Homo sapiens: one gene and its partners. The protein of the gene in region 1 purifies or fractionates together with the protein of each later gene. This does not show direct contact. Each region holds a gene or a part of one and is shown in the gene's direction. Other genes may lie near its edges.

What was found.
Region 2: the proteins of TOP3B (region 1) and CLPX purify together in Homo sapiens (affinity purification with mass spectrometry, with the first as the bait; one large-scale study listed by BioGRID). This does not show direct contact.
Region 3: the proteins of TOP3B (region 1) and GPC4 purify together in Homo sapiens (affinity purification with mass spectrometry, with the first as the bait; one large-scale study listed by BioGRID). This does not show direct contact.
Region 4: the proteins of TOP3B (region 1) and MYO6 purify together in Homo sapiens (affinity purification with mass spectrometry, with the first as the bait; one large-scale study listed by BioGRID). This does not show direct contact.
Region 5: the proteins of TOP3B (region 1) and CLTA purify together in Homo sapiens (affinity purification with mass spectrometry, with the first as the bait; one large-scale study listed by BioGRID). This does not show direct contact.
Region 6: the proteins of TOP3B (region 1) and ACTR3 purify together in Homo sapiens (affinity purification with mass spectrometry, with the first as the bait; one large-scale study listed by BioGRID). This does not show direct contact.
Region 7: the proteins of TOP3B (region 1) and YTHDF1 purify together in Homo sapiens (affinity purification with mass spectrometry, with the first as the bait; one large-scale study listed by BioGRID). This does not show direct contact.

The regions. Positions count from the first base shown.
Region 1 is NC_000022.11:21,965,788-21,969,287, reverse strand, and holds part of TOP3B (DNA topoisomerase 3-beta-1), read left to right. Parts: intron 1-512; coding exon 513-669; intron 670-1,571; coding exon 1,572-1,685; intron 1,686-3,500. UniProt on the Homo sapiens protein: Releases the supercoiling and torsional tension of DNA introduced during the DNA replication and transcription by transiently cleaving and rejoining one strand of the DNA duplex.
Region 2 is NC_000015.10:65,151,031-65,154,342, reverse strand, and holds part of CLPX (ATP-dependent clpX-like chaperone, mitochondrial precursor), read left to right. Parts: intron 1-703; coding exon 704-796; intron 797-1,806; coding exon 1,807-1,913; intron 1,914-3,312. UniProt on the Homo sapiens protein: ATP-dependent chaperone that functions as an unfoldase.
Region 3 is NC_000023.11:133,310,990-133,314,489, reverse strand, and holds part of GPC4 (glypican-4 precursor), read left to right. Parts: intron 1-3,066; coding exon 3,067-3,232; intron 3,233-3,500. UniProt on the Homo sapiens protein: Cell surface proteoglycan that bears heparan sulfate. May be involved in the development of kidney tubules and of the central nervous system.
Region 4 is NC_000006.12:75,747,928-75,752,038, forward strand, and holds the start of MYO6 (unconventional myosin-VI), read left to right. Parts: upstream 1-1,311; 5' UTR 1,312-1,496; intron 1,497-4,111. UniProt on the Homo sapiens protein: Myosins are actin-based motor molecules with ATPase activity. Unconventional myosins serve in intracellular movements. Myosin 6 is a reverse-direction motor protein that moves towards the minus-end of actin filaments.
Region 5 is NC_000009.12:36,193,921-36,197,420, forward strand, and holds part of CLTA (clathrin light chain A), read left to right. Parts: intron 1-3,500. UniProt on the Homo sapiens protein: Clathrin is the major protein of the polyhedral coat of coated pits and vesicles.
Region 6 is NC_000002.12:113,959,589-113,963,088, forward strand, and holds the end of ACTR3 (actin-related protein 3), read left to right. Parts: 3' UTR 1-3,008; downstream 3,009-3,500. UniProt on the Homo sapiens protein: ATP-binding component of the Arp2/3 complex, a multiprotein complex that mediates actin polymerization upon stimulation by nucleation-promoting factor (NPF).
Region 7 is NC_000020.11:63,209,632-63,213,131, reverse strand, and holds part of YTHDF1 (YTH domain-containing family protein 1), read left to right. Parts: intron 1-3,500.

The DNA.
Region 1 (3,500 bases):
GGTGTGAGCCTGTAGTCCCAGTTACTTGGGAGGCTGAGGTGGGAGGATCACTTGAGCCCAGGAGTTCAAGGCTGCAATGATCTGTGAATCCCCATTAATGCACTCCTGCTGGGCAATACAGCAAGACCCTGTCTCTACAAAAACAAAAGAGACCTAAAGAAAATTGTTTATTTAGCTGACAGAGATCACATATGCCCTGCTTGATAAAGTGTGTTTGTCTGTGCTCTGGGGGTCCTGAGGAGAGTGTGCAGTAGATGGAATAGAATAGAAGGCTCCCTGGCCTGAGACAGTAGAAACCTCTGTCTCCTCTCTCACTGGCTCTGTCACCCATGTACACACATGAATCCTCCCTAAGGCTATGCCCACTCTGCTCCCACTGGCTTCTAAGTGGGGACACCACCTGATGCCACCTCCTTCATGCACCACCCCTGGCCTTGGGCTGGACTCACATGGGTGGCCATAATAGTGTCTTGAGTGAATCAGTGACCAAAATATCTTTCCACTCCCTCCAGGTTTCAGACTAAATATTTCCAGGGGAAATACGGTGATTTAGACAGCTCTCTCATCTCCTTTGGGCCGTGTCAGACTCCAACCCTGGGATTCTGTGTGGAGAGACATGATAAAATCCAGTCCTTCAAACCAGAGACCTACTGGGTGCTGCAGGCCAAGGTTCCTTGCCTTTCTCTATTCATGCTGGGGCTTTCTGGGTTTGGGGCATGGATTCTGAGAGTCTTCCATCATCATCAGCCGGCAGGCCCCGGGCTGAGGGCAGAAGTGTGGACGGCTGTACCTGGAAGTGGTCTGTGGTGCCTAGGGCTGAGGGACCCCAGCCTTCATGGGGGCAGTGGGAAGAGACTGGGCCTGTATATGCTGAATCTGGATAAGTGGGAATGAGTTCAGCTCTGGCAGTGCAGGGTGAGGTCACCCCACAGGAATCAGTGGCTTCAGTGGTCAGGTCCAAGCACTGGACTGAGACCATTGGCTTTCAAACTTTTTAAAATTCCTAGAACCCTTTCTTCAAATAAAAGCCTCCACAGAAGCTCACTGTAAGACTTAATACAGCTAGGCACAGTGACTGATGTCTGTAATCCCAACAACCTGGGAGGCTGAGGCAAGAGGATTGCTTGAGGCCAGGAGTCCAAGGCTACAGTGAGCTACGATCGTGCCACTGCACTCCAGCCTAGCAACACAGTGAGACACTGTCTTGGAGCTGCTGTGGCTGACACGGGGCTTGGGACCCTGGCGGTGGCCATACCTACCACTGGCCAGGCACTGGGGATAGGCAGGGGTGGTGTGAGAAGTAGGGGCTCAGGTGCTTCTTAGGGACACATCAGCCTCAGCTTTGGGCCACCTTCCTGAGACTGGCTGCCTGGTTTTGGGGCAAGTGGTGGAGAGGGCCAGATGTCAGCTTGCGTATCTGCCCACCTGAACAGGTACAGCTGTGAGCCATTACAGCCAGGGCTATTTGGCTCCCAGACAAGGACCAGCTTCATCTGTCCTGGTTCTTCCTGGCGTTGGGCTCACCTGGAGACTTTTTCTTGTGCGTTCACCCTTTATCCTTTTTCCTGCAGGTTAACACTGACAAAGACAGATCTCTCCTTTTGGACTGGGACCGAGTAAGAGTGTTTGACCGGGAGATCGCACAGATGTTTTTAAACATGACAAAGCTGGAGAAGGAAGCCCAGGTGTGCCTGCTCCACCCACATCTATCACAGTTGCCTTGGGTGAGGGTGGCCCTTGGATGCCTCCCGCTGGAGGAACAGCCTGTGATCCTAGTCCACGTCTTTCTCCCCCTTTCTGAAACACAGACATCTTTTTGGAAAGCTGAATGGTTACTCCCTCATATACTCCTAAGATATTTCTGCCCAGTGCAATAGTCACAGTGTACTGCATGCCCGCTCCATACCAGGCACTGTCCACACCTGTGACCTTGTCGGACCCCTTCCACTCTCCCCTTTCCACGTGACCCGCTAGGCATTACCTCCGTGTGGCAGGACTCCATTTCACACAGAGATTCAAACTAACAACTGTAGAGGGACCTTGGTGCACACTGATGAACTTGCCCAAGGTCACAGCTAGCAGGGGAAAGTCTTGAGATTCCAATTGCAATCAGCTTGCGTGCTTTTATGGGATTATGTTTCTTACTCAGGGCTTCTATGAATTGAAAGGACATGCTGCTTGGCTGTTAGGAAAACGGTGAGGTGACCTGGCTGCATGGGTTGGGGACACATCTGTGGCTATTGAAGTAAACATGCTACAGGCATGACAGCTACCAGATCCGTCGAGACACAGCCTGGCCTCCTTAGCCGCCTTCTCCTTGTCCTTCTCTGGCCTTCCTTGAGTGCCCTGTTGCCCGCCATGCTATCGTCTCAGGCATCTGAAACTTCTAAAGCTGCTCCAGGCTGTCAGCATTGATCACATTCCTGCAGAGACACTGTTGCCACCTCCAGGCCTCACGCTGGGGAGCCCAGCTTCACATAACAACTGGCCTCTGTTAGCACCCACATCTGTCTGTCTGGAATGCAGAAGGCACTGCCCTGACCAGCCTACGTGGGATTGGCAAGGGCCAGGGCCTGGGGTTGAGTTGTTTGGATTGTTTTTGCCATAGGCAAAACAAAGAGTTGTCTCTTCCGACAAGTGTTCAGCAGAGGTAGAGAGTGGCAGGACCCCAACAAAGCACAGCTCATAGATGCACTCCACTAACCTGCATGGTGTTTACACAAATTCCAGAATAGTTACCAGCACTTAAAAATTACGAGATTTCATACTAAAATTCTGCCTTCTAGCTTCTCTTGAAAAATCAGAAGAGGTAGCAATACTAGCAGGTGCAGGCAGCAGCCCTCCCCACAACAAGGAGTGGTACTTCCCCTGGGACGGGCCCCACTTGCCATCCCTGTAGCTTGGCTGATGCTGGCTTCTGTAGGATTTCCATCTGCAGCCCTTCTGACTCCTCCTCAATCTTCCAGGTTTTCTCTTTCCCTAGAAAATTCTCCAGAAAAGAATATTCAATCACTTGAGGCCAGGAGTTTGAGACCAGCCTGGACAACACAGGGAGACCCTGTCTCTGAAAAAAATAATTTAAAAAGTAGACGGGCATGGTGGCACGTGCCTGTAATCCTAGCACTTTGAGAAGCTGAGGCGAGAGGATTACTTGAGGCCAGGAGTTCATTTAAGACTAGCCTGGGCAACATAGCAAGACCCTGTCTGTACAAGAAATTGAAAAAAAAAATTGGTCAGACATGATGGTGTGTGCCTGTGGTTTCAGCTACACAGGAGGCTGAGGCAGGAGGATCACTTGTCCCAGGAGTTCAGGGCTACAGTAAGCTCTGATGGTGCCACTGCACTCCAGCCTGGGCGACAGAGCAGGACCCTGTCTCTTAAAAAAAACAAAATTTGGTTTTTTGTTTGTTTGTTTGTTTGTTTTGAGATGGAGTCTTGCTCTGTCACCCAGGCTGGATTACAATGGCGTGGTCTCAGCTCACTGCAACCTTCACCTCCCA
Region 2 (3,312 bases), on another chromosome or scaffold:
TGTGAACTTTGTGTCTCTAAATATCAGTCTCTTCTTCTCCGTTGCCACTGCCTCAAGTCAAGCCCCTTTGATATTATTCACCTTGACCCATGCATTTAGTTCTTAATTGGTCTGCCTGTCTCATGTCTGTCTGTGACTATCACCAAAATATCATTATCTTCCTCTTTACTTCTGGAATGGATCATTGAGAACAGTGCCCAACAAATAGATATTAAGTTCTTAAATATTTATTGAATGATTAAAGATAAGGCTAATGTTTTTACTCCCTTGCTTAAAATCCTCCGGTGGTTCCCTAGTCTTATTTAGATGTCTCCCCCTTTGCTGCTCCCTTAGCTCCATGTACATACACTGGACTATAAATGCTAGTTTGCTAATCTGTCATCTGTCATCACACAATAGACTGTAAGTTGCTTGGCAAAGATGATGTCTATTCATCATTAAATCCCTAGTATGTAACACACAGAGGTTTAGTAAATGTTGAAAAAAATCCTAGGGAGTCCGTGTTAATCTAGAAAACATCTTCAAGCTTCAGAACAAACTTGGAATTCATAATACTGATACTGTCATGGATTGATAGAAACAAGTGCTTCTTGAAGGCAGGGTTCCAAAACACCATGAGAAATTGTGCCCTCACTTAATGGTACATTTTCTGGTGGTACAAATTAACAATAAAAGTTATAATTTATTTTTAATGTATTTGTAGTGTGAACTGAATGTTACTGAGGATGCTTTGAAAGCTATAGCCAGATTGGCACTAGAACGAAAAACAGGTGCACGAGGCCTTCGGTCCATAATGGTGAGTTGGCATTATTCTATAAAAACAATTATTTCTTGGTCTGAGTTTTGAGTATATTAAGCTTCCCTGTTTTTCTTTTGGAAAATATGTATATATATTTTGAGACAGAGTCTCAAATAAAGGAGTGCAGTGGTGCGATCTTGGCTCACTGCAATCTCCACCTCCCAGGCTGAGGCTCAAGCAGTCTTCCCACCTTAGCCTCCCAAGTAGCTGGAACTATAGGCAAGAACCACCACACCTGGCTAATTTTTGTATTTTTAGTGGAGATGGGGTTTCACCATGTTGGCCAGTCTGGTCTCAAACTCCTAACCTCAGGTGATCTGCCTGCCTCAGCCTCCCAAAGTGCTGGGATTACAGGCGTGAGCCACCACGCCTGGCCTGAATTTTTTTTTTTTTTTAGTCACAGTAGATTATATTTTGCTTTTTCTCAAAAAGGAACTTCAAGGTGTTTGCAACAAAGGACATAGACATAATATGATTAATGACACAGAAAATCGGGATCGGGCCTGGTAACTCACACCTATAAATCCCAACACTTTGGAAGGCCAAGGCAGGAGGATTGCTTGAGCCCAGGAGTTTGAGACCAGCCTGGGCAACATACACCCTCATCTCTCAAAACAAACAAACAAACAAACAAACAAAAAAAAAGAGGCTGGGCATGGTGGCTCATGCCCATAATCCTAGCACTTTGGGAGGCTGAGGCAGGCGGATTGCCTGAGCTCAGGAGTTCAAGACCAGCCTGGACAACATGGCGAAACCCCATCTCTACTAAAAATACAAAAAATTGGCCAGATTTGGTGGCTTACGCCTGTAATCACAGCTATAATCCCAAATATATATATATATATGTTTATATATATAATCCCATATATATGTTTATATATATATATATATTTGTTTTGTTTGTTTCTTTTTCCTTGAGTGAATGGATTCCAATTTGTGATTTATAGAATAAAAGCACTTGTATGTAATCTGTTTTCAATGTGATTCATTACTTTTTATTTCTTTAGGAAAAGCTGTTACTAGAACCAATGTTTGAAGTCCCTAATTCTGATATCGTATGTGTGGAGGTTGACAAAGAAGTAGTAGAAGGAAAAAAGGAACCAGGATACATCCGGTAAAGTGTATTTTCAAGCCAGAACAGATACAAAATTTAAGATGAGCTCCTCATTGCTATGTTTATTGGTTTGTCATTTTAAAATTACATAAAAATTATTATATTTCTAAGGGAAGCAATAATCTCAAGTTTTCTGTAGAAAAATCTAATTTGGGTATTATAAAATAATAGTATTTTGTGAGTCTTTGAAAGTTGATCATCAGGCCGGGTGTGGTGGCTCACACCTGTAATCCCAGCACTTCAGGAGGCCGAGGTGGGCGGATCACGAGGTCAAGAGATAGAGACCATCCTGGCCAACATGGTGAAACTCTGTCTCTACTAAAAATACAAAAATTAGCTGGGCGTGGTGGTGTGCGTCTGTAGTCCCAGCTACTCGGGAGGCTGAGGCAGGAGAATCACTTGAACCTAGGAGGCGGAGGTTGCAATGAGCCAAGATCGCACCACTGCACTCCAGCCTGGGCGACAAAGTGAGACTCAGTCTCAAAAAATATATAAAAAAAGGCAATGGGGCTGGATTTGGCTAGCAAGCTACAGTTTCCTAACCCCTGATTTATTCAATAAATGTTTACTATGCAATGCTTGACATTAATGTTACCTACACAAAAGCTAGGTTTCTGTTTAACTCAAATCATAAGGTATGTTATGTTTTATGTTTGCTTGTGTTCCAAGATAACTTTAGAGGCAGTTGATGTGTTTTGAACAACCTTAGTTATCCAGAGAGATATAATCTTTTATTTTTATTGTTTAATGACATTGACGTATGGCTTTTAAAGGAATTGTGGTGACCTGAATTATCATTTTTACTAGTTCGAGACAAGACGGATGTGATCAGAAATAGCTTCTTTACCATATACATATGCTAAGTTCCAGCATTTGAGTTGAAATAACAGATGATACTTTCTTGGAGAAGAGGATTTTTTAAGCCTTCACAATTGAAGCCATATTGTCCTTTTTTTTTTTTTTTTTTTTTTTTCTCCCAGTAATAAATTTGTCAGGGAAAATGCTGGGAAGTTTATTTGCAACTCTTGGTTGTATAGTCTGTTTCCCATATTACTAAGCAATCTTTTTTTTTTTTTTTTTTTTTTGAGACTCAGTCTTGCTCTGTCGCCCAGACTGGAGTGCAGTGGTATGATTTCGGCTTACTGCAACCTCCACTTCCTGGGTTCAAGCGATTCCCTTGCCTCAGCCTCCTGAGTAGCTGGGACTACAGGTGTGTGCCACCACACCCGGCTAATTTTTGTATTTTTAGTAGAGATGGGGTTTCAACATGTTGGCCAGGCAGGTCTCGAACTCCTGACCTCAAGTGATCAGCCCTCCTCGGCCTTCCAAAATGCTGGGATTACAGATGTGAGCCACTGTGTCCGGCCTAAGCCGTCTTAATATTAAAAGTGCTCCTAAT
Region 3 (3,500 bases), on another chromosome or scaffold:
AAATAATGAAATGGAAGAACTCTGCCAAACTCAGCATCATAATTTCCCTTAATAAAACTCTACTGTGTCATTTAGTTTGGTCTCTTTTTAAAACTTGAGCCTCCATCAGCCTATTTTAGGGGAGGGTACTACAAGGTCTGTTGCATAAATGATTTGACTTGCAATTGAACTAAGAATACAATGAACCACTTCCTAGAGTTATTTTTTAAAAGAATGAGAAAGGACTTCTTTGAAAAAAGAAGTGTTTTCTGAATATAACTATTTTGGGTCTAAAATTTTTGCTCATTTCCTAAAGTCCTGTACCACATTGGAATTGCTTTGTATTTTGTAGAACAGGTTTTGTATTCTAATATAGAAATTCTTAACTTGCCTTGTTACCTAAATTCAAATGCATTCCAGAATAATCCCTGGCACATAGTAGGTGCTCAGTAACTATTTGTTGACCCCTTAGCTTTCTACGTTTCTTCTTACGAGGGCATTGTCTCCTCTTAAGCATAATATTCAACAAATGCCACGTGCTATTCAGTGATTTTTCATTTCATAGCCACTTGCATAACTTTTACCTCTTTAAAATCTAGCCATTTTGCAGTCTCATCAATGTGGAACCCAACTAAAACTAAAGTAGGAAATAACCAGTGCCTAAGATTACAGTTTCCTGTCATCTGGCAGGGAAACGTGATACATCTGGGAAATCTTTTCATCACAAATGCTTGATAAGGTATAGTACTGGAATCCGATGTTGTGAGGTGACTGTCAGCAAGTTGCTTAATCTCTTTGGCTTTGGCTTGGTTTTTCTTATCTATCAAATGTGAGAGCAACACTCAGTGATCTCTCTGGTCCCTTCCAACTCTAAGACTTCTGTGATCCTATGCTTCTCAGGCCACCTCCCCCCTCCAGTCCTGTTTGCTCCTTTACAAAAGGAGAGGGGGACATGTAGGGAAGTCTTAACAATCTGTGACTTTAAAGGAATGAACTTTCAGCTGTCCAGCAAATCTGGCTATCCAGAAAAGGCCATTCCTCCAGGGTATATTGGTTAGCCAAAATTTTACTGTACATTAATACATAGTTAGGACTAATTTAGTGCCTAGGAAAACATTTGGGAATGGTTAAAACTGTGGAAAAATCTTAATTCTTGGTAGGGCAGTGTATACAATTACCATTTTATTGTTACACGTATTCCCCCCTTTTAGGCTAGAGCCTTGTTTGGGATGAGGGGAATGGATGTGCACATGCATCACGTAGGAGCCTGACTGTTTTTTTTCTCCTGACACCACTAATCCCCTGTTCCTGTTCCTAAGGGCACTGCTGATAAGTGATATCCAAAGTAACACTCCAGAGCAGGTGAAGTGCATTGCCGGGCTGCCCTGCATCCCAGCATCTCTTCCCTGTGGTGGTATCTGCCTCCAAAAGTCTGTGTTAGCAGAACTGGTGGGTACTTACACAGAAGAATGCACTAATCCTCTGATACTGACTCCAAAAGAGGAGGGTGGGGCAGAGAGAAAGAGGAGACAGGAACTTTTAATTAGCTGCTAGAATGCTATACCTAGCCCCAATCCTTTCTAAGCATTGAGGAAAACAAGTGACCGGATGGAATCAGCTCTTCTACACCCCAAATAATTTCACTTTATAAAACTAGATGAAATGAAGTCCCATTTCTCTGGAGAGGACAGCCAGCCCAATCTGACTTGGGTAATGTTTCTGTCTTTCTTCCTTTCCTTCCTCACAAACTTCCAGTCATAGCCCCATGTGTCCTGCCATATGGTGTCCCTGTTTGTTTGTTTCTCCTTTCTTCCTTTCTTTCTTTTTCTTTCTTCCTTTCCTTTCCTTTCCTTCTTCCTTTCTTCCTTTCTTTCTTTCTTTTGAGACAGAGTCTCACTCTGTCACACAGGCTGGAGTGTAGTGGTGAGATCTCGGCTCGCTGCAACCTCCGTCTCCCAGGTTCAAGCAATTCTTCTGCCTCAGCCTCCTGAGTAGCTGGGACTACAGGCACACACCACCATGCCCGGCTAATTTTTGTATTTTTAGTAGAAACGGGGTTTCACCATGCTGGCAAGGCTGGTCTCGAACTCCTGACCTTGTGATCCGCCCACTTCGGCCTCCCAAAATGCTGAGATTACAGGCGTGAGCCACCGTGCCTGGCAACTGGTATCCCAGTTTCTGCCTGATGTTTAAGCCCCTCTAAATTCTGGCCACACGCATACTCCTGTGCACCTGACCTTATTTCCCGCAATTCCCCAACCCCATTCTGAGATGCAGTGACATGTCCTGTACTCTCCTACAGGTTTTGTTCATTTCATTGAACTTAACTCAGGATGCTCTCCCTTTGTTTGACCACTTAAGTCCAGCCCCTTTCTCGAAAATTTAACCAAAGCCCCACCTCTTTCATCAAGTGTTCTGTGAACACTCTGTGCTTTAGTACTCCCAAGCCTTGGAAAACCTTCACACACCCCCTAAGTTTAAGATTACTCATATTCTGCCTTGTAGAATATATTAACTTTGCCTTCTGCACAGCTCTTGGCACAGAACAGAAGACACCGTAGGTACCCTTCTAAACCTTAATTTGGGGTTAGGGTTCAAAGGACAGCCTTGTAGTCAATGTAATGCAGAAGAAGATGTGCTTCTGTTCCAGTCTGGCAAAGACAAACACTGATGGTTGAGGCTATTAGCAGGACGTGCATGGTGGGCACATGAAGATAGTCTCCTCCACTGCATCTCATGGCTCACCCTGCATAGTTATTTGTAAAAGGATTTTGAGATAATTGAGCAATTTATGTGTGTGTGAGAGAGAGACTCCAGGAGGGAAGGGGGTGGGGGAGGAATGGGTGTTTACAGGGTGGGAGTTGGTGCACCTTGTTTGTTTTGGGTCATCTCCCTCCTCTCCCCTGTCCCAACATGTATCTTTTATCTAATCTATGTCTTCAGGAGGCAGTCCAGGCTTACTAATTGTGATCAATCACAACTCATTCTTAAGTTCATGGCCAAGCCTTCAGTGTCAATGTGATAGAAGCAATTTCTGTCTCTATTTTAGCCCCGCCACTACTGTCTTTTTTTCTTTTCACACATTAGGTAAACCCCACAGCCCAGTGTACCCATGCCCTGTTGAAGATGATCTACTGCTCCCACTGCCGGGGTCTCGTGACTGTGAAGCCATGTTACAACTACTGCTCAAACATCATGAGAGGCTGTTTGGCCAACCAAGGGGATCTCGATTTTGAATGGAACAATTTCATAGGTGAGCAAGTGGTTAACATATTTGTGTTGCTGGAGATAGCTTAGCTTCCAGTCACAAGGAATGTTGTAATTGGCAGCTATGAAATTTGTTTGTTTAAGTGTTTGCTATTTAGTGTTTGTCAGAATCCTGACTACGCTCAACTACTTTGAGAATAGTAAAAACATTACTGCAAGTGAATGTTCCCTCAAACTAATGGTGGCATTTCTGAAGGTAATAGATACAGTGGCTGCCAGGTTTTAATAATGAGAAAATGCCTTTTTCTTGGAGA
Region 4 (4,111 bases), on another chromosome or scaffold:
TTAAAAAAATGTATTGACTTCTATTGGTTTGCCAAATGAAGTTTAGTATTAAATCCAAAATTGAGTCAGAGCAGTGTGAACTGAGACAGCCATCTTCATCTTCTCCCTCTTTTTTTCAGTTTGTTTTGAAATTTAGTTTTATATACTTAAGACTTACCTTCTGGCAATTTGGAATTAAATTTCTGAGATTGCTGTAAATTATTTCCTTTCTTTGTTTCTCTTCCTCTTTCTTACTTCCCTATTTTACTCTTAATATTTTATTGTTTTAGTTGAATTCTAAAACATCTTATCAGAACTTAGAGTTTTTATTTCTCCACCCACAGAACCATGGAGTCTTTAAGTATCAGAAATTTGTCTCCTCGTCAGAATCTTCTAGATTTCCAGAAGTTTCCAAGTCGCTACATATAAATGTTGCAGAAAAACGTGTAATTCTCATGTGCAAGTAGGCTTTTTTCAGCGGATACATTTAGCATTATAGTCAATTGTTATTTCGTTGCCTTAAAAGAAGCTGTTTTCATTGTAAAGGTGATGTGTTTTTACCATATAATTCAAATTTGCATAGGTACTTCATATTTTAAAAGGTGACTCACAGGTATGTCACTAATAAAAACAGTAACATTTAAACGACTGAGAAGGTAGGGGCTCTAAATAAAGTAAATGCGTCGGCGAGGGTAGGAGCGGGAAGAGGCAAAGGGGTGCGAAATTCCCATCCCAAGCCCCCTCCTCCAAAGACCGAATGGCAACTTAGTTGTGCGGGAAGGTTCCCCCCTATGCAGGGCAGCCCAGTCCAAGCCGGCCCGATCCGGGGCCGAGTGAGCAGTGGTTCTTGCCGCAACCGCCACGCAGCCTCGCTGCCGCCCAAGCGCGGACACCTGGTTCCTGGGTCCCCCGCGCGGAGCCCCGGACTCCTCGCCCCTTCTCCGAACAACTTTCTCCCTGCTTGAACTGATTCTCGCTGTTGGTAGACTGCACAGTCACAGTATCCAGCCGGACAGGACCTGCTTTGCCGGGACTGGAAACAACTACCGCGGCAAAAGAGGCCGTTTCGCCATGGGAAGAACAAGAACTCCCGGCTTGTCCAGGGGCAGCCCCTCTCTGCGCTGCAGGGCGCCTACCCTCGCCCCAGAGGCTCTGCGCCGCGGGCGGGGCGACCCCGGGGGTCGCGCGCCCTCTCCCGGAGCGCGCCCTCCCTCCCGGAGCGCGCGCCCGACGGCCTGCCGCGGCCCCGGCGCCCCCGCCCCTTCGGGCGCTCCGTAGCCGTGACGTGCACGCCGCAGTGCCGGGGACTCGGCGGGGCGCCGGCCGGCGGGCGGAGACCGACTCGGGATCTGTCCGAGCAGGAAGCCAGCCTCAGCCCGGCCGCTGTCGCCGCCCTGTCCTGGTGCCCGTCCGCGTCGTCGCCCTCTTCACTGGCCCTCATCACTTCTCACCGCGCCCTCCAGCTTCACCCGTACAGGTAGCCCCGCCGCCGCGCACCTGCCTTCGCTCCCGCACCGGTGAGTGTCCCAGAGACCCACTGCGGGGCGTCGGCGCCGGGGTCTCGCGTTCCCTGGCCCGGCCTTGCTCCCGGGCCTCCTCGAGCAGCTCCGGGGCCGACGCTTCTGTTCACTGCCCGAGGACGCGGGTGGGAGAAGCAGGTGATGGATGGGTGGGCCCTGGGCAGCAGTGGGGCCGGCGGTGGTTCTCGTTTCCACCGAAAGACAATCAGTCTCCTTTCATGGGTTCTCATCACCAAGGTCCCTTTGTGTTTCTTCCCTGGCTCCCAGGTAGAAGCAGAGCACTCAGGTGCCTAACTCGGACTTGGACACTCCGTGATAGTTTTATTTTCTCTTTTGTAAACACGCTTAAAATTCAGTGCAGGGGGAGCGCAGTTTGCTCTGAGATGTGAAGATCAAATGATACCATTAATAGTCTAATCATGTAGGAGACCAGATCGAGACTTTCTAAAGCCTTATTCTTAGTCTCCAGGTGGTCCAGTACCTTGAGTATGTTAATTTACGGATATGCTACTGAACAAGAACTTTTTTTGTTAATTTCCAAAAACTCCCTAAAACGATTAAAATGCTTAAACTCTGGGATTTTAATTTTAAGTAGGACACAATTTGATGGGGTTATTGCTAGAACATCCGTGTTTAAAAGTATTTCCATACAGTTTAAAAAATTCATTACCTTTTTTTTTTTTTTTTGAGACGGAGCCTTGGTCTGTCGCCCAGGCTGGAGTGCGGTGGTGCGATTTCCTCTCACTGCACCCTCCCCCTCGCGGGTTCAAGCAATTCTCTGCCACAGCCTCCCGAGTAGCTGGGATTACAAGCGCCCACCACCACGCCTGGCTAATTTTTTTGTATTTTTAGTAGAGACGGGGTTTCACCATCTTGGCCAGGCAGGTCTTGAAATCCTGACCTCTTGATCCATCCGCCTCGGTCTCCCAAAGTGCTGGGATTACAGGCGTGAGCCACTGCGCCTGGCCAAATATTCTTTACATCTTACCTGGCATAAAGTGATGTGGTGGAGGGATGCTTAAATCCTGATTTACAAGTATTAGTGAGAAATGAGGAGCACTGCCCTAACTTAATAGACTTAACTGTACGGGCTAAATAAGCCTCATTTTTTTTTTTTTTTTAATGCTCTGGTGGTATAGATGCAGTCTATCTAAATAAAGTCAGAACTTGAGAGTTTTAAAAATTAACTTTTTTTTTTTTGAGACAGAGCCTCGCTCTGTCAGCTCACTGCAACCTCCACCTCCCAGGTTCGAACGATTGACCTCCCTCAGCCGCCCGAGTGGCTGGGACTACAGTAAGGGCGCGCCACTGCCCAGCTAATTTTTGTATTTTTAGCAGAGACGGGGATTCGCCATGTTGGCCAGGCTGGTCTCGAACTCCTGACCTCAGGTGATCCACTCGCCTCGGCCTCCCAAAGTGCTAGGATTACAGGCTTGAGCCCCCGCGCCTGGCCTGAAAATTAACATTCTTAAGATTTAGCTGAAACTTATCTTCACACCATAAAACGTGAATCTTGAACTTGGACTGGTAGTGGTCATGGTACAAAGGTTGGCGGCAAAACAGCATTTCTGTACAAATTAACTGAACTTCCTAGATGTCTTGGGTTGTGGTTTTCAAACTGGAGAATGTTTAGTGAAAAAATTACCTTTGTGCCTTTTTTCCTTAATTGTAGAAACCGCCACAAATGTTACAAAGTGGGCTATAGCCAGAGCTTGAAACCATGCTGCCGTTCAAAATAGCTCACAGACTTTTATATATACAGCTCATTTTGAGTATTTTACGTTACGCAGGAATTGCATCCACTTTGGTAAACAGAAGTCATTTTAGTCTTATGTACATTTGCCCATTATTTTTGTATTTTTTGTGTGACATGCTGTTTATCATTCTCTCATCTTTGTAAGTTACATTTTTGTTTTCAGAAACCATTGTAAATGTAACAGAAGTATGAATGACATTTAAGGAAAGATCATGATTAAAAACTGTATAATATATAAAACTATATATGATATACATATATATTCTTGGTTAGTGCCTAGAAACATGAGCAAGAAAAATGTTATGAACAATTACAATATTTAATGTAAATTAATGCAATTAAATATTGCATTAAAAACAAAAGATCGTAAATCATAACCAGTAGGGATTATCTGAAATGGATTTTTCCCTGTTTATGTTTACGTGGTCAAGTTTTAAAATAACAGTGGCCAGGAAATCTGAGAGAGGCTGAAGGCTCTGTTCTCATCCTGTTGTGACTTTGCCTGGAGTCTGTGGTGTATCATGTAGCCCATTGTTTAGACAACTGGGCTGTATCTGGGTTCCAAAATGTAGCTTTCTTTAGAAAGTTTTAAAGACTTTGACCATGTGAGGCTTGAACAAATGCAAACATCCAAACATTGAAAAAAACCCATTTTAACTTTCTGTTGATAGTTGAGACTCCATTTTTGACATGTAAAATACCAGTTTTAAGAAGAGTTTACTAACCTCTGTGTAGTTTCATTTTTATATATTAAAATATCTAAAAATATTGGGAAGTGTTATAACTTAAATAAATCTCAGAGTTTATTTATTCTTTTTTTTTTTTTTCTCTGAGATGGAGTCTTGCCCTGTCATCC
Region 5 (3,500 bases), on another chromosome or scaffold:
GAGGCAGCACAAGTGGAGCTGTTGAAAAGCTCTCAATCATGAGGGCTGAGTCGGGGAAGAGAACAGGAGAGACAAGCCACAGAGAGAGTACAGCAGTAAGGCACTATTATGGTGTTTTGTTGTTTTTGAGACAGTCGCTCTGTCACCCAGGCTGGAGTGCAGTGGTGCGATCTCGGTTCACTGCAACCTCCGCCTCCTGGGTTCAAGCAGTTATCCTGCCTCAGCCTCCCGAGTAGCTGGGATTACAGGCGCCCACCACCGTGCCCAGCTAACTTTTTGTATTTTTAGTAGAGACGGGGTTTCACCATGTTGGCCAGACTGGTCTGAAACTCCTGACCTCAGGTGAGCCACCCGCCTTGGCCTCCCAAAGTGCTGGAATTACAGGTGTGAACCACCGCACCCGGTGACAAGTTATTTCTTGTAGGAGAAGAAAGAGACATGGGTGAATTAAAGGGAAGCTTTCTGGAGAAGTAATTTTATTGGTAGCAGTGGTGGAGGGAAGTTTAGGGAAATCTCATGCATGATAGTTAATTGTACTGCACATTTGCTGTATACCAGGTACACTTTCAGATCCCAGCAGTAGCTCCACAGGTTAAGTGGTAGTGTCATATTTCAGATGAGAATGGATCGGTGTGGAAGTTGAGCAGTGTCACTAAGGTAGCAAGGTAATAAATGGCTCAAGTGCAGCTTCAAACGTAGGTCTGCTTGACTTCAAATGTTTCTGGAATGTGGAAAGTTGAAAGTGGGTTTGGGACAGTCTTTCACTTTTGAAAACTGGCCCTTTTTCTGTCTGGAGTTCCTGAAAGGCCCTAGAAAGTTTCCTTCTGAAGCATCGTGTTGCTTAGTTTAGTTGTTGTAGTAAGTCAAGGCCCTACATGTCCTTTCTGCATGTTTCCACAGCAACAGACGATCCCTTGGCTTGAGCCAGTTGATTCTTGTAAGAATGTTAGTGCAGTAATACAGTAACTAATAAAGAGGAAAGCAGATGCCAGTGGGTCTGGAGGAGCCTTCAGACAGCATGTGATTTTTAAGGAGATGTGGGATGAGGATTGCTTCTTGTTTTGTATATGGAGTAGTGATCAAAGTCTCTCATATTCCAGCCCAGGGCTGGACTATATTAGTGGATAGTTGGTATGTCAATTGTACTATATTAACCATAATGTAGGCCTGGCCAGACTAGCCACTGTAGGATCTAGGATTTAAAACTATCTCACTCTTCTGTCTTACACAAAAATAAATTCCAGGTGGATTAAAGAGAGACATTTAAAAAGTAAAAGAAGAAAAGTGAGTATTTGTCTATCTCATAATAGGAAAGGCCTTCAGCATAAAAGCAGATACAGAAATCATGAAGAAAAAGTCGATCATGTCTACATACACAAATTAAGTTGTTCCAAGTGTTAAATACCATAAACCAAATCAAAAGAGAAACTAGGGAAAATATTTGACTATTAGAGAGCAAATACTTAGAGATCAAAAAATAGCAGGAAAATAGGCAAACTCAGAAAATTCAGTAAAGAAGAAAATCAGGTGTCGGGTATGTGATTACCTCACTGGAAATAAGATTGGCACAACAAAGCCACCATGAGTTTGTTTTTTTTTTCCATTATCAAATTAGCAAAAATTTTAAAACATGATCAAGCACAGTCCCTAGTATCAGGGAAGGTCTAAGAAATGGGGCACTTGTGCTGCTAGTAGTAATATAAACTGGTAGACTAATAGGAACAAGTGGGTAGAATTTTAGAAGTCTTTGAAATACATATCCTGGGCCAGGTGCGGTGGCTCACGCCTGAAATCCCAGCACTTTCGGAGGCTGAAGTGGGCGGATCACCTGAGGTCAGGAGTTTGAGACCAGCCTGACCAACATAGTGAAACCTCGTCTCTACTAAAAAATACAAAAATTAGCCGGGCATGGTGGCACGTGCCTGTAATCCCAGCTATTCGGGAGGCTGAGGCAGGAGAATCACTTGAACCTGGGAGGCGGAGGTTGCAGCAAGCCGAGATCGCGCCAGTGTACTCTAGCCTGGCCAACAGCGTGAGACTCCGTCTCAAAAAAAATAAAAAAATACATATCCTGGCTGGGCGCAGTGGCTCATGCCTGTAATCCCAGCACTTTGGGAGGCTGAGGTGGGTGGATCGTCTGAGGTCAGGAGTTCGAGACCATCCTGGCCAACGTGGTGAAACCCCCGTCTCTACTAAAACTACAAAAAAAATTAGGTGGGCATGATAGCTCACGCCTGTAGTCCCAGCTACTCAGGAGGCTGAGGCAAGAGAATCACTTGAACAACCCAGGAGGTGGAGGTTGCAGTGAGCCAAGATTGCACCACTGTACTCTAGCCTGGGCAACAGAGCAAGACTCTCTCTCAAAAAAAAATAAAATACATATCCTGTGATCCAGCAATTCCTTTTTTTTCTTTCTTTTTTCTTTTTTTTTTTTTTTATTTTTTGAGATGGAGTCTCGCTCCGTCACCCAGGCTGGAGTGCAGTGGCGCGATCTTGGCTCACTGCAACCTCTGCCTCCCGAGTTCAAGCAATTCTCCTCTTTCAGCCTCCTGAGTAGCTGGGATTACAGGCTCATGCCACCACCCTGGCTAATTTTTGTATTTTTAGTATATGGAGGTGGGTTTCACCATGTTGGCCAGGCAGGTCTTGAACTCCTGACCTCGAGTGATCCTCCCACCTTGGCCTCTCAAAGTGCTGGGATTATAGGTGTGAGCCACCGCGCCCAGCTGTAACCCAGCAATTCTACACCAAGAAATTTATTACAGAGGCGAAATTGAATATGCTTCCCCCATGCTTTCACTAGTTTGATAAACTTCATATTTCCAAAACTTTATAGAGTGCTTAAAAAACTACATAGGTAGGTGGCACATGCCTTAAAGTGGTAAAAGGCCACTGACAAACTATAAGAAACTCATTTTTGTACTGACATATAGGAGTAAAAGTCAACTAGGAAAATTAAGAAAAATATGAGAGGCCAGGCATGGTGGCTCATGCCTGTAATCCAATACTTTGGGAGACCGAGGCGGGTGGATCGCTTGAGTCCAGGAAATCGATAGCAGCCTGGGCAGCATGGCGAAACCCCCTTCCTACAAAAAAATAGAAAAATTATCCAGGCGTGGTGGCGCATGCCTGCAATCCCAGCTCCTGTGGGGACTGAGGTGGGAGGTTCGCTTGAGCCCAAAAGGTCGAGGCTACAGTAAGCCATGATTGGGCCACTTTGCTCCAGCCTGGGCGACAGAGCAAGACTGTCTCAAAGATGAAGCTGCAGGTCTCTGCTCACTATGGGTGATTCCAGGCCACACTTTTTTTTTTCCCTCATGCAGAATTTTCATAGAGAAACACTGTTCTCTTTCTGCTAGTCTTCCATTTGTTACCACTGTAAAATAGAAAACAGAAAATAAAATCAAAAGCTTTTGGACTTGGGAGCTTAAGGACAGATGTGTACACATTTTGGTGAAATTTGTATATAAGCACATCTTGGTTTTATTTGTTGTATATAG
Region 6 (3,500 bases), on another chromosome or scaffold:
TTGTGTATGTTCTGATATCCCTTTGCTCTACTTTTAGAGGAGTGAACCCTAATAGGATGGTAGCAGCATTCTTGTTTCTTTATATCTCTCCTCTGTGATTGTATACCGTTTTTTCAACTTAAAGCAACTTCAGCTGGAAATATGTAGAGGTTGGCCAAGGTGAACTAAATAGTCTGTAACATTGATTAGATATCAAGCAACGTGAGCATGGTAGCAAAAGCACTAACTGAAGCCAGTGATTTAATTTTTAATTCTGATTCTGATAATTGATGATATAGCTCCTCGAACTTTGTTTTTTGTTAAAACTTGGAAAATATATTTGTATTATTTTGGACAAATTATTTGAACTCTCTGGACCTTGATTCAATTTATATATAAGGTAAAGGCATTATACTGGATTATCCTGCAATTTCTTTGAGTTGTTAGAATATAATGTAGCTTATTAATAGCAATATTAGCAGTGTAGTAGATTCTGACTGCAAAACCTAGCCTTTTCTATTGATTCATTAGTGGTAGTAAAGGTATTATCTGATTTATCCTTTTTAATAGGCAGTGCTTTGATCAAGTGGGAAATAGTAATGGACAAATAAAATCAATGATCATTATCTAACTTGATGCCTGCTTTTCAAAAAGTGAGCAAATTTCACATCTTCACCCTTAGACATTAATTCATGGCACCTACTATAAGTACTCATCCTCTTCTTACCTATCTTCTTTTCTATAGGAGATAAAGTGGTTATTCAGACCCCCCAATACAATTTTTTGGTTTGTTTTCACAGCTACTTAAAAGATTAAAATAACTATTCTTGCAGATATTTCTAGGAATATTTTTAGAAATAATATGAAATACAGGGATAATAGGCCAATTATGATCTTTATTTTTAATTTCTACAGAAAAGTACTAGAGAATATATCTATAGAAACTTCTTTCAGATAACCCTAAAGATGATACTAGAATGTTTATAAAATTATTGAGAAGATTATTTGTGTTATAAAGCTTATTTGTACCATAGTAAAGGATGTTTTTGTTCCTCTTCATTCTGGGCTAATCTGTCAATACTGAAGTCCAGTCTTTTCCCCCTTTTCTTACCAGCTCAACCTTGATTCCTGTGACCCATTCTTTCTGATCTTTCGTAGTTCATAGTCACCAGGCATGAGTACCTTGGATAGCCCTCTGAAGTCTGTTACCACCCAGATTTCCAACTCGGGTTAATTGGTACTAATTCTATTAGCTGGTATAAATAATCCAAAATCTGTGCAGACTCTGGGAGCAAAATGTTCTACTCAGTTTGGAATACTGTGCCTTAAAATATATTTCATTGTAACAGCACCTTGTATATATAGTTGGCCAAGGACAGAGTTGTTACAAGTTACGTGGAACTTTCATAGCAAATCTTGACAGTAAATACCTTGTTCTTGTATTAGGTCTATATCCTGAATTGACCTTTAGCAAGAATCTTTAGATCTGCTGGAGGGCTGGGATGGCTTTTGGACTTCAGTGAAAAAGAATTTCTGCTACTCATTGTTGATAACGCTTCAGTACTGTATAAATGTTTATCCTTTTCCACGTAATTTGTTTTCTATGATATGAGAACTTTTATTATAATTTGCCTCAGTCTTGATAGAATCTTAACAAAAATAAAATCTGTGGTCGTCTGAGGTATTCTCCATGCTATAACCCAGTTTAGCTGATGCATTTGGAGCTTGGGTGCTGAAATTAAATATAACCTATTTGAGTTAAGGATTTATTACTAGTGCTCCAGTGGTCACAGGAACAATAAAAAAGGAACAACGATAGAAATACGTGATCTAGGAAAGAAGGCAACTGAAAAACCTGAAAGAAAAAAAATGAAAGATTAAAAGTATACGATATTCTATTTTGATTTAGCAATTACTTGTTTTCTAGTGTTCTGTCAATTTTTGGTGACTTTTATAATTACATTAAAACTAAGATGCTGAATTAAAATAAAGTTTCTCTTTTATTCAAGCACCAACATTCACTTATATTACCTATATATTGCATCAAGTTTTGAGCCTTCAATCCCAGAAGCATTGATTGACTGTCTACTGTGGTTCAAGTACTGTGCATAAAGATGAATAAATATTCTGTCCTTGGCTTAGTCTAATAGTAAAGGCACTCTTAGAGGAGGGACAAATATTTTGCCTAGATAAGATTTGAGAGATAGTAAGTGCGGAATTTCTCTTCATAAAAATGGTAGTGTTAGTTGTTTAGAGGGAGAAGTCCAGCTATGTAAGGTGAAAGTGGGGCTTATAAAAGTGGATCTATTGTTTAAAAATTAGTACTTTGCTCCTAAAATTTTTACCTAAGTGTTACATCCAACAACAGATGAAAGTAATTCGACAGTAGCATCTGCTTTATTCATTTCATATTTCCAGTGCCTGACATATTGCTTGGCATATAGTAGTTTAGTGGATGTGTTTGATGAATGAATGAGTAAAAATTATTTTTCATGTTAAAATAAAACTTTGAATTACATGAGTATACAACTTTTGTTCCTTCAAAATACCCATATTTGTCAAATATGACCGAATTACGACTTTTTTTCTGTTCCACTAGTTTCTACCTTAGAAGTGACATTCTGCGTAAGGTAGTGGGGGATTACTAAGTGATCATGACTTTTCTGAAGCAGGTCTTAAATAATTATCTAAGCCTTCAGTCATTTCAAAATCTCTGTAGTGTAAATGATCACAGGCTCTAAATCAGATTGTTGTACAAGGTAATTGACATGTCCTGAAATGTAACATTCAACATTAACAGTAGAAACAGGCCTCATTTCTCCCTCTGGCTTTTATTGATCAATTTTGATATTGTCCAGATCCCATGTTAAACCACTTGATTTAGAGATGACTTAATTCTAAACTTCCTCCATTTTTAATTAATAAGATTCAAGGTTGCAGTAAATTGTTAATCTTATTTGGAATTATATTAGAAAGTCGATATCGGAATTGGAACCACACATCTTTTTCTTATTGTGGGTACATGGGATCTTTCCCAAATAAATTCCTGAGCAACAAGAAAATCTGAGACTTGTTTTAAATGCTAAAATGATTAGTTGGAATAATGTATACATTCATGAGATGACTAAAGCACTAGTGGGGTAGTTTCTACTGCAGTAGACTGATTTTTCTTAGCCCAAACCTTGAAAGATGAATGTTTTAGTAGATGGAGAGTAGGTGGGGATGATATTTTAGATATGGCAGAAGCAACTTGAGTTACAGCAATTGGGGAGGGGATTAGAATATTGTGATTAGGAGAAGTGAGGAGAAGAGTGGGAGAGAAGACTGAAGGATATCTGACACCTTCAAACACACCCTCAAACACAAACATTGGCTAAAAAAGTTGATGCAGTTCAGGGTGAAATCACACACATGATTGACATAAATAACATTGTGGAAAAGTGACTTTGCAAAGACCACACAGGTAGTTGCAGAATAGAACTTACTGGTTATAATTTTTTTGATATTTTACTGAATAGCAT
Region 7 (3,500 bases), on another chromosome or scaffold:
CACCACTGACTGGCCTGTGTCCATGGCTTGCCTTCTCTTGCCTCAATTTCCTTTTCTGTAGAAGAGAGAGAGTAGTAACTGTTTGTAGAATTGTTGGGAGGATGACATCAGATGGTGCACATAAAGCGCTGAGACAGTACCTGATACAGCAGGGCCCAGTGAGTCATAGCTGCCCTGTTTTCTTAGGTAATTCAGGCTTTCTCTGCCTTGGCACTGTGGACATTTTGCACGGGAACATTCTGTTTTGGGGGCTGTCCTGTGCATTGTTGGATGTTTAGCAGCCTCCCTGGCTTCCCACCCACTAGATGCCATTAGCAACTCCTTCTCCCCATCCCCAGTTGTAGCAAGCAAAACTGTCTTGGTGGATGTTTTTTGGGGGATACAGTTGCCCTGGTTAAAATCTACTGGGAGCTGCTCTCTCTCCTCTGTGCTGCTGTTGCAGCAAAACTCCCAAGAGAAGCGGTATCTGTTTATGTCTAAGAGTCCAACTCGGGAATCAGACTTCCCCTGCCTCACTTTCCTACCTCCAGGCCGTTGGCTTGGATGAGGGGCTGCACCTCTGTGAGCTCCTCACTTTGGTGAGCAGGCCTCATGGGGCAGCACAAAGCAGATGCTCTGAGTGCTCCATTTCGTGTGCTGTGATTCACATTCCTTCCTCCGCCACTCCAAGTAGCCCTCAGCTACTGGGCATGTTTACTTTAAAGTAAAACCAGGCTTCACCTCTTCTCTGTGAAGGAATAAAACTAGTCTGCCCTTTTCTGAGGTGTCTTAGAACTTCTTAGAATGTTCCTTCATCCCCCTCCCTCCTACTGCACTTGGCGAATCAAGCAGCTTAGAGACCAAGAAACCTTGTACAGGTGGAGCCTCGGCAGCGCTGCCCCGCGCTCCGACCCTGCTTCTGTTTCTTGTCTCTTGGTTGCCTTCTGAGAATCTGCCCTTCCTCTGGGCAGAACTGACTTGACTTTAGTGATGGGCCTTTGGATAGAGGTAATGGCAGGAAGTTAACTAATTTTTTGAATTTCTTGTTTTCTAGTGTGTTCTTATTATTTTAGTACTTTAATGGTATTATGTACTGAATTTTAGCCAATAAAGGGGGAGGGAGGTTGCATCAGTACACTTAAAAGTGTGTGTGTGTGTGTGTGTGTGTGTGTGTGTGTGTGTGTGTGTGTGTATTTTGGAGACAGGGTCCTGCTGTTACCCAAGCTAGAGTTCAGGGGCATGATTATAGCTCACTGTAGCCTCAAATTCCTGGGCTTAAGCAATCCTCCTGCCTCAGCCTCCTGAATAGCTGGGACTACAGGCATGCACCACTACACCTGGTGATTGATTGATTGGTTGGTTGTAGACACAGGGTCTCTTTGTGTTGCTCAGGCTAGTCTTGAACTTCTGGGCTCAAGTGATCTTCCTGCTTTGGCCTCCCAAAGTGCTAGGATTACAGGTATGAGCCACTGTGCCCAGCCAAAAATATTTTTATAAAGTCGGAGCTTTTGTGTTGTTTGGGAGGATTTCTTTACAAATCGATTATTTTTATGTCAGTGGGTGTCTTAGCTCCATATGTAGAGTATACAGTATGGTTTTATAACTTTTGATTTACACAGACATACCTTTGGAGCCATGGCCACAGTTAAGATAGTGGGCATATCAATAGCTCTGGGTCCTTTTTTGTTGGAGACAGGGTCTCACTCCATTGCCCAGGCTGGAGTGCATGATGTGATCATGGCTCACTGCAGCCTCGACTTCCCAGGCTCAGGTGATTCTCCCACCTCAACCTCCCAAGTAGCTAGGACTACAGGCATGTGCCACCACGCCCAGCTAATTTTTAAATTTTTAGTAGACATGAAATATTGCTGTGTTGCCCAGGCTGGTCTTGAACTCATGGGCTCAAGCAATCCACACGCATCAGCCTCCCAAAGTGCTAGGATTATAGGCATGAGCCACTAGTGCCCAACCTAACCCTGGGTACTTAAAAGAGAAAAATCTAGATATGGTTTGTAGTAGCCAGTTGGAGGCTACCGTGTTTTGTGTGAAACTGTCATACTTAGAATGGTTTAGAAAGTCTTAGGAGAATGCCTGCCTGTTAGGTTGGTTTAACTTGTAATGGGCTGTGAGGGGTTGTTGCCGTGTGGTGGGGGTCCTTCCCTCAGAGAGGCCTCACCCGCCTTGCTGTGCTTCTGGTGCTAGAGTTTCAGTCCTAGTTGCCCCTGAGGCGCTTGCGACTGTAGCCGCTCAGTATCTGTCTTCTAGTCTGTGACTTGAATGGGAGTTGGGGGAGCAGAGGAACTGGGAGTGAAGGGCTCTGGGTTGGGCTTGATTGTTGTGATTTTCTCTCTTTTTTTGTTTTTTGAGATGGAGTTTCGCTCTTGTTGCCCAGGATGGAGTGCAGTGGCGCGATCTCAGCTCACTGCAGCCTCCACCTCCCTGGCTCAAGTGATTCTCCTGCCTCAGCCTCCCGAGTAGCTGGGATTACAGGCACGCGCCACCACGCCTGGCTAATTTTTTTTGGTATTTTTAGTAGGGACGGGGTTTCTCCATGTTGGTCAGGCTGGTCTCGAACTCCCGACCTCTGGTGATCCCCCTGCCTCAGCCTCCCACAGTGCTGGGATTACAAGCATGAGCCACAGTGCCCCGCCGATTCTCTCTTTTGAGGCTTTTCCTGCTCGGGGACTTCTGGTTTCCCAGTTCTCTGTTGTTTTCTGAAAGGAAAGACTGTGAAATGACCCAGAACAGTTCCTACTCAGAGTTTAGAAGACACTGTCTTGGCATGATGCCTGAGTTGGGAATAGATGCCGCTGGCCCCCCAGGCTTCCTGCACACTCCCTGACCAACAGACTGAGTGTGTTTGCTGTGATCCCACTGACAGAAATTACCAAGGCCATCTGGGCATGCCTGTACCTGTGCTGCCGGATGCAGTTTGGTCAGCAACAGACCACAATATGATAGTGGTCCCATAAGACTATGATGGTGCTGAAAAATTCCTGGCACCTGGTGACGTTGGAGCTACCATGTTGAGGGCAGTGTATTACTCGTGTCTGTGGTGCTGCAGTAGGTGTGACCAAACCTACTGCCCCAGTCATACCAGAGTATACACCTACAGTTACGTACAGTACCATACAGTACGTAATAATTGATGATAAACGACTGTTACTACTTTGTGTATTTGCTATACTTTTAAGAGCATATTCTGCCTACTTACTAGAAACAAAGTCAACTGTAAAGCAGCCTCAGGCAGGTTCTTCAGGAGGAATCCAGAAGAAGGCAATTGGTGTGACAGGAGATGACAGCTCCATGTGTGTTGTTGCCCCTGAATACCTTCCAGTGGGGCAAGATGTGGAGGTGGAAGATCCAGACCCTGTGTAGGCCTAGGCTAATATGTGTTTTTTGTGTCTTTTTGGGTTTTTGGTTTTTTTGTTTTGTTTTGTTTTGAGGCAGGGTCTCTCCCTCACCTGGGCGGAAGTGCAGTCATGACTCATTGCAGCCTTGACCTCCTGGGCCCAAGTGAT